Linked DNA regions of Homo sapiens: region 2 is linked to region 1. Evidence: fine-mapped expression QTL. A gene starts in region 1. The other region holds a variant in brackets. All regions are shown on one strand. Distances are from middle to middle.

What was found. PIP is the estimated chance that this variant, and not a neighbour inherited with it, causes the effect. A credible set is the group of variants that fine-mapping cannot tell apart.
Region 2: its variant is the best candidate, but not a certain one, in a credible set for the expression of BCAT1 in whole blood (Lepik 2017, PIP 0.53).

The regions. Positions count from the first base shown.
Region 1 is chr12:24,945,721-24,951,102 of GRCh38, reverse strand. BCAT1 (branched chain amino acid transaminase 1) reads left to right here and starts at 2,002. Exons shown (of 11, transcript NM_005504.7): 1 at 2,002-2,176. The coding sequence starts at 2,171. BCAT1-DT (BCAT1 divergent transcript) reads right to left here and starts at 1,940. Exons shown (of 3, transcript NR_199054.1): 1 at 1,773-1,940. RefSeq lists enhancers at 1,549-1,638, 1,759-2,108.
Region 2 is chr12:24,909,434-24,914,815 of GRCh38, reverse strand. The region is part of intron 1 of BCAT1 (branched chain amino acid transaminase 1); the gene reads left to right. Among named protein-coding and RNA genes, the nearest start is that of BCAT1, 37 kb to the left of the region's middle. RefSeq lists a silencer at 3,067-3,361. The variant G/A (reference allele first, on the strand shown) is at 2,139.

The DNA of each region.
Region 1 (5,382 bases):
GTGTTTTCTGTCTCTATGGATTTTCCTGTTCTGCACATTTCAGATAAGTGGAATCATATAATATGTAGTCATTTGTGAGACGCTTCTTTCACTTTGCATAGTTTTCAAGGTTCATCCATGTGACTGCATGTAATCAGTACTTCATTTCTTTTTATTGCAGAATATAATAATATTCCATTGTATGGATGATACCATGTTTTATTTAGCCATTCCTCAGTTGATAAACATTTTGCTACCTGATTTAAAGCTTACTTTCTGTTTCTCACACTAGTATATGAGCTTAATGAGGGTAAGAACATTTTTGTTGTTTCCCACTCAGTCCCTAGCATTTTGCACATTGCCTGTCTCATGTCAGTGTCAGGTTCAAATCTATCTAGCTGTGCTTTCACTGACGGGGGCCAGGAGGTTTCACAAGGACTCAATGGCTGATTAAATGCTTACAGATACAGATTTCTCAGGGCAGAACTTCTGCAAGCATTTTGGCTGTGGTCAGTTACTTTCAGGTTTTCATTACTTTTTGGTTTTCACAGCATCCGCAAGTGCCCATAGCCATTATCTCAGCTGCCTCTCTCTTTACTCTCTTGCCAATGGTGCCAGGCCACAGCAGGTGTTATCTTATCACCTCAGTCCACCATACATATGCTTATCAATTTGAGGGGTCAGCAATTTCACTGGAGGCTGAAACCCTTGTCATAAATGGCTCCATTTTGAGACATTTCAGATTACAAACCACTGTTATATACCAGCCTAGCATGTAGAAATCACTCAGTACATTTATTGAACACATAATTTAACCATTCATTCACCTGACCAACAGTCATTAAGCACTGACACATTTGTTTTCAACACTCCCTCTCTTCCACGGCAGGCCACTTGGTATGGGAGATAAATATGACAAAGGATCTGCCCTTACGAATCTCATAATCCACTGAAGTGACAACTGTGCAAACAAATAATTAAAGTAAAATTAAGAAGCTGGGCACAGTCTCACATCTGTAATCCCAGCAATTTGGGAGGCGGAGGCGAGGGGATTGCTGAGGCCAGGAGTTCAAGACCAGCTTGGCCAATTTAGTGAGACCCCATCTCCATTAAAAAATGATAAAATAAAATAATTGATTTTGAGAAAGGATGTGGACAAAGTGCAGCACATAGACCAAGGGCCCAGTTCTGTTTGAGGGCATTGGAAGCAACTTCCACAGCAAAGACTTGGGTTGAAATTTACAAAAATAGGAGTTTGCCAGCTTGACAGAGAGGCAGCGGAGGTCAACCAGCAGCACACTTAAGCAGTCATGGAGGCTGACCTAGGCGCTGGACATGGAAAAGTAGCAATCCTGGAGCTTTGTATAGATGTGGGGAGGGAACTTACAGGGGACCAACTAGGCTACTGGGCAATTTCACATTATAAAGAATTTTATATGCTCAAATTAAAGGATTAAAAATTTTCCCCCATGTACATAATAAATTGGCAAAAATGGTTATATTTGAGGGTGACTAAGGAACTCTGGGAAAGAGATCGGCAAACCAGGCACATGTTCTTGACTACTGCAAAAGTACATTTAAAGTAGCCGCGGGGGATACATGTATACTTTTGGGCAGGATTGTGCCGTGGTCCTCTCAGCATGCAGCAAAGTTACTTTGGGGACAGTAGGGAGGTGGGCAGGAGCCAGTGATGACGGAATGGCAATCACATTTGACCTCTGATCTGTTTATTTCCTCCTCCTTGACGTCTCCATATAAATGTTACACGGGCATCCCCACACTCGGATACGCACCCACAGTGGCTGATTCGGGGGTAACCGTGTCATTTGCTTGCAACACTGGCACCTCTGCCCTGCACCCCGGGAGTGAGCAGTGAGTGAGGCTCGGGTCTGGGCGCTGGCTCCGAATCTTCGGGCTGGGAGAGACTCCACCATCTGGGGGCGGCCTGGGGGAGCAGCCTTAGTGTCTTCCTGCTGATGCAATCCGCTAGGTCGCGAGTCTCCGCCGCGAGAGGGCCGGTCTGCAATCCAGCCCGCCACGTGTACTCGCCGCCGCCTCGGGCACTGCCCCAGGTCTTGCTGCAGCCGGGACCGCGCTCTGCAGCCGCAGACCCGGTCCACACGGCCAGGGGCTACGACCCTTGGGATCTGCCCTCCGCTCAGCTCGAGCTTCCCTCGTGGCCGACGGAACAATGAAGGTAACTACTTATGGTTTTGTCCGTGTTTTACAAAAATGTGTGCGTGAATCGAACCGGCGATTTCTCCAAGAAACATAGTTGGCAGGGAGGGGAGGAAGGCGAGACAACCATGGCTTATATCCCCCGCAAACGTCTCAGTATCTTCTTTATCAATCGTAGTTTGCGGGGACCGTGCATTCTGTTCAGATTTCGGTTTAACCTCCACTCGCAGGACGTGCCTTCTCGGACTTTTTCACATTCGCTTTTGGGAACGGAGGTGAAAGTCTGCTACAGCTCCCTCCCCTGCTTGTGAAGTTTGGAAAGGAAGTGAGGGCTTCTCTCAGTTTCTCCTATGCACAGGAGGTGGGGAATTTTGGAGAGGAGGTCTGGGGATGTCCCGGGCTGTAAATGCGCTTTCCTGCAGCGTGTGTTCGTGATGCAGGAGGGAGCGGCTGGAAGAGTTGACCCGGGTGGAGAGGGGAGGGAGAACGATCTTTTCACTGTTAAAAGCAGAAGGCCCCTCTTATTTTGTTTCTTGTGGAAATTAAAGCTTCTAGGAGTTACAAATGATAGACGCCTAAGGGCATTCATTTGTTAAACCAGTGAGCACCCTAATGGCTCTGATCTTGCTAATCAAGGATAATTAGCCTAGCTGCCTATTATTTCTGACTATTTAGGTGTAGGGATGTACACCGTTGAGTGTTTTGTTTTCCTAGTTTCACACACTGGAAAACTGCAATCGCATATAAAACCCGAAGAGCAACTTTTTCCAAGGAAAGTGAAGGATGGGCAGATATTCTTGCCATCTAACATTTTGGAATTGAGATGACCATAATGCAATCTGAACTTCTGGTAGGAATAAAGCCTCGTTTCAGAGTTTCTAAGGAGGGAGATGAAGCGTGGTTCTCAACTGCTCTTATCTACAACCCATCCCAGACCATAGTTTCACTTAGAAGAAATAATATGTAAATAGCGCCTTTGTTGCCAAACAAAAACTTTCACTACAATTAAACAGTAACCGAGTGGAAACTATGCGTTTTTGTATTCAACAGAGATCACACAACTTTTCTTCTATAGTTAGAGGTTCTATTTCTGGCTTCCTCATGCTTGTTTCATTTCAGATGAAAAACACACTTTAGTTGATTATAGCTTTAGTAAGTAAAAGGAGAAAACTAAGAATGAACAGTCTTGCTTTTCCAGCTTTTTCCTGTCCATGTGCAGTTGTGGTTAATTACGCGTTTTTGTAGGTCCAAAAACCCCTGTCCCTTCCACAAGATACTTTTATAACATGGGGAACTAGGTAAGATATCTACAAGTAGTCTCTTTTCTGTTTCCTGATATTTCCTAAGATTAAGAAAGAAATGATTGTATTCTAGGTATGATCGAAGAAGTATGGAAGGTTCCATTAAGTTAGTTTTATCACAATATTTCAAACATCTTTCCACTTATCTCTTAAATATGTATTGCTATCACAAGCTTGATTTTTTAAAAAAATGTTATTTGCACATGGCATCTTGATTGCCTTTGTCCTCAGCAAATTCTCCGGGCTTAAGTCATGCATGAGCTTGTATTTTAAGACAGACACATGCAGAATGGGCAACTTGGATAAGAAACATAGGATATACACTGAGTAGCATGTGTACAAAAATGGTAAGTGAGTATTATGACTTAATAAATTTAGATGGGGATTTAAAAATGATACACATGTAAATGGGATTGGAGGCAAGGGAAGTCCGTGTGTGTGTGTGTGTGTGTGTGTGTGTGTGTGTGTGTGTGTGTGGAGGGAAGACGGGAGGCCTAGTGGGGAGAGAGGTTTTACATTCCAGACACAGGATGTGGCCCCTCAGGCTAGGCTCAGAGATGTAAAGCTAGTTAAGCTGGCCTAACAAAAGGGTGGTGGTTAGAAAAAGGAAAAAAAGAGGTGGGGGTTGGGGAGGAAAAGAATTTAATGCTGGCCAATATTTTCATCTGATAAGTTTCAGTAATGAGTAATTTCACTGGATTTCAGAACTACAGAGAGAAAAGGGGAAAAATATTTTTCCTTTTTTACGCAAGAATTTCTCTTGCTTTTCAGCTCATTAGAACCAGATCTAATTATTTGAAATGAGTTTAAAACCTTATTATGAAAGGAAGTTGAAAACATTCGATCACAATTGAGTTTTGTACTATGGACTAAAACCAAGATGTGCTTTCTGTCAGTAGCTGTGCAACTCCCTGAAAAAAGAAAAATAGCGCAGAGCGATCTGAGCTTTGTGAAGGCTACACAATTTATCAGGCCCAGAGAGATAGGAGTGTGAGACTTCAGTCACGTCCCCCCGTACGCATGCGCAGGAGTAATTATTTAAAGACATTTTGTTCCTGACTAACTGCCTCACTCATTATGTTCCTGGAATTTGTGATACAAAAAAACAATGTTTAGCCTATCAATAGTTTATATAGTTTATGTTATTTTAATATAAATTCTTCTCAACTTAGAAACTGCCTCTTTTTTCTTTTAAAAACCCACTTGTAACTGCTGTATATATTCAGGGCAACTTGATTTGGTGTTTCGTTGGTTGCAGTCCTCAAATTTGACCTCAATATACTCTCTACTTATATAAATTTTGTCTCAGTTTTGTCCGTAGGCTGACATTCCAATTGTTTTCCTAATTATATATTTTGTTCCTTATTTCTCATGTCTAGAAATAAAGCTAGGGAAGTAAACAGCTGGAAAACTGATAGTGGTGTTATTAACCTAACTGAGAGGGCTGGGCTTATGAGTAAATTATTCCTGTGCATAAATGAAAGATTGTTTCTAAATGGCAGCTATGTTGAGCCTTTGTATTAGTTACATCTTTTGGGGTTTCAGGTTGCCAGCTTCTTTAAATGGCCTCTTCTCAACTGGTATAGGAAGTTGGAAAATAAAGAACTTTCTTTATTTCCCTTTAGTGTTGGTAACCACAGTTTCTTTAAATAACAGATGCCCACCCCAGGGAAACCCAGTGGCATGATCAGCCTTATGCTCAGGAAGGTTTGGTTGCTATACTGGAGAGTGAGAATCTGGGACCTTCCATGATAGACATAATTGTGCCAGCTATCCTCTACTTTCTATATGATGCTATCATTCTTTTTTCTTTTCTTTTTTTTGACAGAATCTCACTGTGTTGTTCAGGCTGGAGTGCCGCAGAGTGATCTCTACTCACTGCAACCTCTGCCTCCTAGGTTCAAGCAATTCTTGTGCCTCAGCC
Region 2 (5,382 bases), 36 kb after region 1:
GTCTTGGAATCACCAAGCCCTGCAGGCTTTAGCTAGACAACTTGATATAAACTTTGGAAGAAATAATGACAGCAACTTAATATATGAGCAGTGTTCATGTCAGCTGATGTATGGATTACTCAGAAGGTTTACTTGAACACCTGATTCAAACTATAATCCAGAAATATCTGTAAGATTGCCACTGCAATCTGAAGCTACTTCAGAGACTCTAGGAAAATTAGTTTATAGACAACTCCAGATGTTAATCTTTGTTTTTCTTTTGTTTTCATGGAAATGCCTTTTATTAAACATCTGATTGCTTGATTCATAGAGGCCTGACTTTGGTGGAAGCAACACCACTGCCTGAAATGAGATATAACTGTTAACCGTTTAATTGGAGCGGCCTGTTCTCACGACTGCAAGACTAGTTCAATGGCTTATAAAATAATCCACCCGCTGGGCACAGTAGTTCACACCTGTAATCTCAGCACTTTGGGAGGCTGAGGTGGGCAAATTGCTTGAGCTCAGGAGTTCGAGACCAGCCAGAGCAACATGGTGAAACCCTGTCTCTACCAAAAATATAAAAAATTAGCCGGGCATAGTAGCATGTGCCTGTGGTCCCAGCTCCTCGGGAGGTGGATGTGGGAGGATTGCCTGAGCCTGGGAGGCAGAGCTTGCAGTGAGCTGAGATTATGACACTGCACTCTAGCCTGGGCAATACAGTGAGACCCCATCTCAAAAAAAAAAAAAAAAGATAATCTACCAACCCAATTTCTCAACTGGGGAATGTTGGGCTCCTGCTCTCCTGTCTCTGACCTTTCATTCTCCCTTGAGGCTAGCCATCAAGACTACAACCCCTCTTCCCCAAAGTGGGCCATAGAAACAAAACCCCTTTTCCCCAAAGCCAACCATAAAACCTAAAAATAGTACTCTAACTTCCACCACCCCCAGCCTGTCTGTGTAAGGCCATAAAGAAATTATCTGACTCACTTTGTTTGACTGAAGGTTATAAGACCCCCATTCCAGAGAGGGTCCAGCACCACACCCAGAAGGAAGAAATGCATGCTCAGAGAGGCAAGAAGGGTCCAGACAGACAGGCTGTGCTGGATTTCCCTGCTCAGTCTATTAGCATTAGACCATACCTTTTTTGTCCAATCATATTTCTACGTGGCTCTCCATACTTTGTTTAACCTAACCTAAGGGGGCTCAGGGTTTTGGCCTGGGCATTGTCTGTTGGGGAATAGAGTGAGTCATCCCCAGCTCATGGGTTTGCATCCAGTTCTTGTTGTAAAAGGCCCAAAGCCTGTTGGATGGCAACCCTGAGCCATCGTGGAAGGGGGGTTCCAGTTTCACAAATAGATACTCAGACAGCCAAACTACCATCTACTTGGTGCCAACGTTTGCACTGTGGTCAAAGACTTACCTAGCACAGACTGAACAAATCTTCCCATCTGTCACATAAATGTCCCCAAGCAATGTTGAAGCACATGCCAGGATCGGCCTTGCTAGGTCCTGCTTGGTAGATAAGCAAATGGCTTCCTTGTGGTGTTTTTATTCTATTTTGTCTCATTAACACTACAACTTTGTGTTATCTACTTGATAATCTGTAATTGTAAATACATACAGGATTATGTAATTTGTGTAAATACATAATGACAGACTTCTGAAAACTGGTATTTTTTACTTGGTGTCCATTTGAAGCTGTTTTAGGTTCTGTGGCACATGAACCAATGGCATTTAAAAAGCATACTCTCCTTGCTCTTAAAAAAACAAACAAAACAAAACAAAAACTGTCCATTAAAATTTTTGTATTTTTGTAAAGACAGGGTTTCACCATAAAAATGGACAGTTTCCCTTATATCTTTGGGTCTTCGTTCTGTAGGCTCTCGTGTCACATAAAATTATGATCAAATAAATTTGTATGACTTTTCTCCTATTAATCTGCCCCTTGTCAATGATTTTGAGCAACCTTCTGAAGAAAGTGATGGGGAAGTATTCCCTTTGCTGCCACAAGGTATATATCAGATAAGTCAGTCTATTTTCTTGAACATATATCACATTCATAGGAAAAACACTTTTTCCAAAAGATTACTGTCTTCCCAAATACCCACGTTCTCCATTTTTTTTTTTTTTTTTTAGAGATGGGGTCTCACTGTGTT[G/A]TCCAGGCTAGTCTCAAGCTTCTGGACTCAAGCAATCCTCTCACCTCAGCTTCCCAAAGTGCTGTGATTACAGACATAAGCCATCACGCCCGGCCCCATTTTCTCCTTTGGGTGTATGTATATTGCTCATTGTCAGGCATCAACCATTTCTCTTCTCTGAGATGGAGTCTCACTCTGTCACCCAGGCTGGAGTGCAGTGGCGCAATCTTGGCTCACTGCAAGCTCTGCCTCCCTGGTTCACGCCATTCTCCTGCCTCAGCCTCCCGAGTAGCTGGGACTACAGGTGCCCACCACTACGCCCGGCTAATTTTTTTGTATTTCTTTTTTGGTAGAGACGGGGTTTCACCGTGTTAGACAGGATGGTCTCAATCTCCTGACCTCGTGATCCGCCCGCCTCGGCCTCCCAAAGTGCTGGGATTACAGGTGTGAGCCACTGCGCCCAGCCCTCTTCTAATTTTTTATATTTATCATGTATTTACTAGAACTGGTTTATTTTCGTGAGCATATGTTGTGGATTCTACTATAAATAATGCACTTAATAATCATTAATAAAACTTAAATCCTTTCCGTCTTGATTGTGGCCTTTTCTTTTTGCTATTAATTTCCTCAGCATAGGTTAACCTGAACTCTTAAAAGCTATTTAGGTACTGGTATAAAACAAAATTTTCTCCAAAGCAATCCAGTATATAATATCTGGATTTTAAAAAAGCAGCCTCATTTAATTAGGATTAATTTCTCCTTTCAGAAGTTAAGTGATTCTGTTTCTGTAAAACGCAAAATTATAAGCTTAATTGTTTTCCACACAGGAAATGAAATTCCTAATCTTTTTATCCAGAATCTTCATGTGTTTGTCTCTCTGTCCATCTGTCACTCCTTTTTAAGGTACCTGGAGATGACCTAGAGGCTTGCCACGCTTAGGGTTTCCTCCCTGTGCAGAAGAAGATGGGAAGTGCAAATGAGGACGAGGGGTGGGGAGGGAAGAGGGAGTCAGGTGATTCAGCAAGTGCAGGAGCCCACAGACTAAGCTCAGGAATTTGCACTTTGTCTGCTCGCAGAGTGAGTTTCATCGTGGTGTGTATATATTGAGATATGCAACAGACTCCACTGGAATGTCAGAAGAACTTATGTTTATTTTTCCTCTAACATGTGGGAAAGATTAAACTGTATTTGTATTTAACTCACATAGATTGGCACGTGCTCATTCTGTGTGTCACCCTGCCACGCTGTCACAAACTTCGAGCAGGGTCCTGAGGGGAGAGGAGGGCATAGCTCCTGCTCCCAGGGGGTTGCCTGTGTAGCCCTGCGCATTCATTCTCTTCCAGAGGGTTGTGATTTGTGGCGGTCTGTGTGAGCCTGGTTAAGGAGAGTTACAGATTATGTCATCTGGTGTTAACTGATAATCTTTGCAAAAGGGACATTGGCTTTAAGAGATGTCTGCAAAAAAAACTCTAAACAAACATAAATAAAAATTTAAAAGGATAAAGCCAGAATAATAATGAAAATATTAGTAATGTAAAACAAGGAAATGTGTCATGTTTTTCATGATAACTAATATTTTTTCAATTTTTTTTTTTTTTTAAGACAGTCTCACTCTGTCACCAGGCTGGAGTCAGTAGTGCGATCTTGGCTCACTGCAACCTCCACCTCCCAGGTTCACACAATTCTCATGTCTCAGCCTCCTGAGTAGCTGGGTTTACAGGCACTCGCCACCATGCCCAGCTAATTTTTGTATTTTTAGTAAAGACAGGGTTTTACCATGTTGGCCAGGCTGGTCTCAAACTCCTGACCTCAGGTGATCGGCCGCCTTGGCCTCCCAAAGTGCTGGGATTACAGGCGTGTGCCACTGTGCCTGGCCCCAGTTCTTATTATAAGTTCTCCATTAACCATATCATGAGATTAAAAAAACAACAATGATTTCATCGGAACTGACAAATAGTGGGTGACACAATTTTGATCATCAAGAAGACTTTAAAAGAAGGATTTGTATCACTGTCATTACTGATTACTTGGCCCTTGTGTATACTGGGCCTTTAGCTAGGGCTGGTACAATAAAATAACCATAGTTAGAAAGATATTTTAAAGGATTACTTATTTCATGTTTATCTCACCCTTTTATCCCTATTTTTGGGCATGATTTATTATTATTAGGTTTTTAAATAAATAATGAAATAAGCATGTTAGGTTTGCATGCTGCTTTGGTTAACATTGCTATATAACCAACCACCCCAAACTTTGTGGCCTTAAAACAATAATTTATTTATTTATTTATTTATTTATTTATTTATTTATTTATTTATTTTTGAGACAGAGTCTCGCTATGTCACCCAGGCTGGAGTGCAGCGGCATGATCTCGGCTCACTGCAACCTCCACCTCCTGGGTTCAAGTGATCCTCCTGCCTCAGCCTCCCGTAGAGCTGGGATTACAGGCACCCGCCATCAAGCCCAGCTAATTTTTCCTTTATTTTTAGTAGAGACGGGGTTTCACCATGTTGGCCAGGTTGGTCTCGAACTCCTGATCTCAGGTGATATGCCTGCTTTGGCCTCCCAAAGTGCTGGGATTACAGGTGTGAGCCACTGTGCATGGCCAACAATAATTTATTTTTATCTCTCATGGTCTCTAGATTGCCTGGGCCCGGCTGAGCAGTCTGAGTCAGCCTTATGGTCTCTCATGTGTTTTTAATCAGTCATGAGGGGCCGGCATCATCTGAAGGCTTGACTGGGCTGGATGTTTAAGACAGCCACTCACAGGGCTGACAGTGATGCTGGATGTTGCACTGTTGACTAATGAGCCTGCACGTGGCTCCTCCATGTGATTTGGGCTATTTATAGCTGGGGTGACTGGGTTCTAGGTGGGGTAGTTCCAAGATCCTTCCAAGAGGAAGAAAGCAGAAACTGCCTGGCCAGTTAGTGTATATGCTTAGTCTTAGAACAGTGTCACTTCCATATTTCTCCATAGTCCATTAATCAAAGCAGTTACAGGAAGCAGACAGACAGGAAGGGAAAACACAATGCAACAGAAGGAGAGATTGAAGTGTTGGCAGCTGCAAGCCAAGAAACACCTGGGTTACCAGAAGCTAGAAGAAGAAAGGTAGGATTCTCCCCTACAGGTTCCAAAGGAAGCTGGGCCTGTCCACACCTCACCTCTGGAACTATGAGACAATCACTTTCTGTGGGTTTAAGCTACCCAGTTTGTGGCACTTTGTTACTACCGTCCTAGGCAAATGATACAGTAACTACATACACA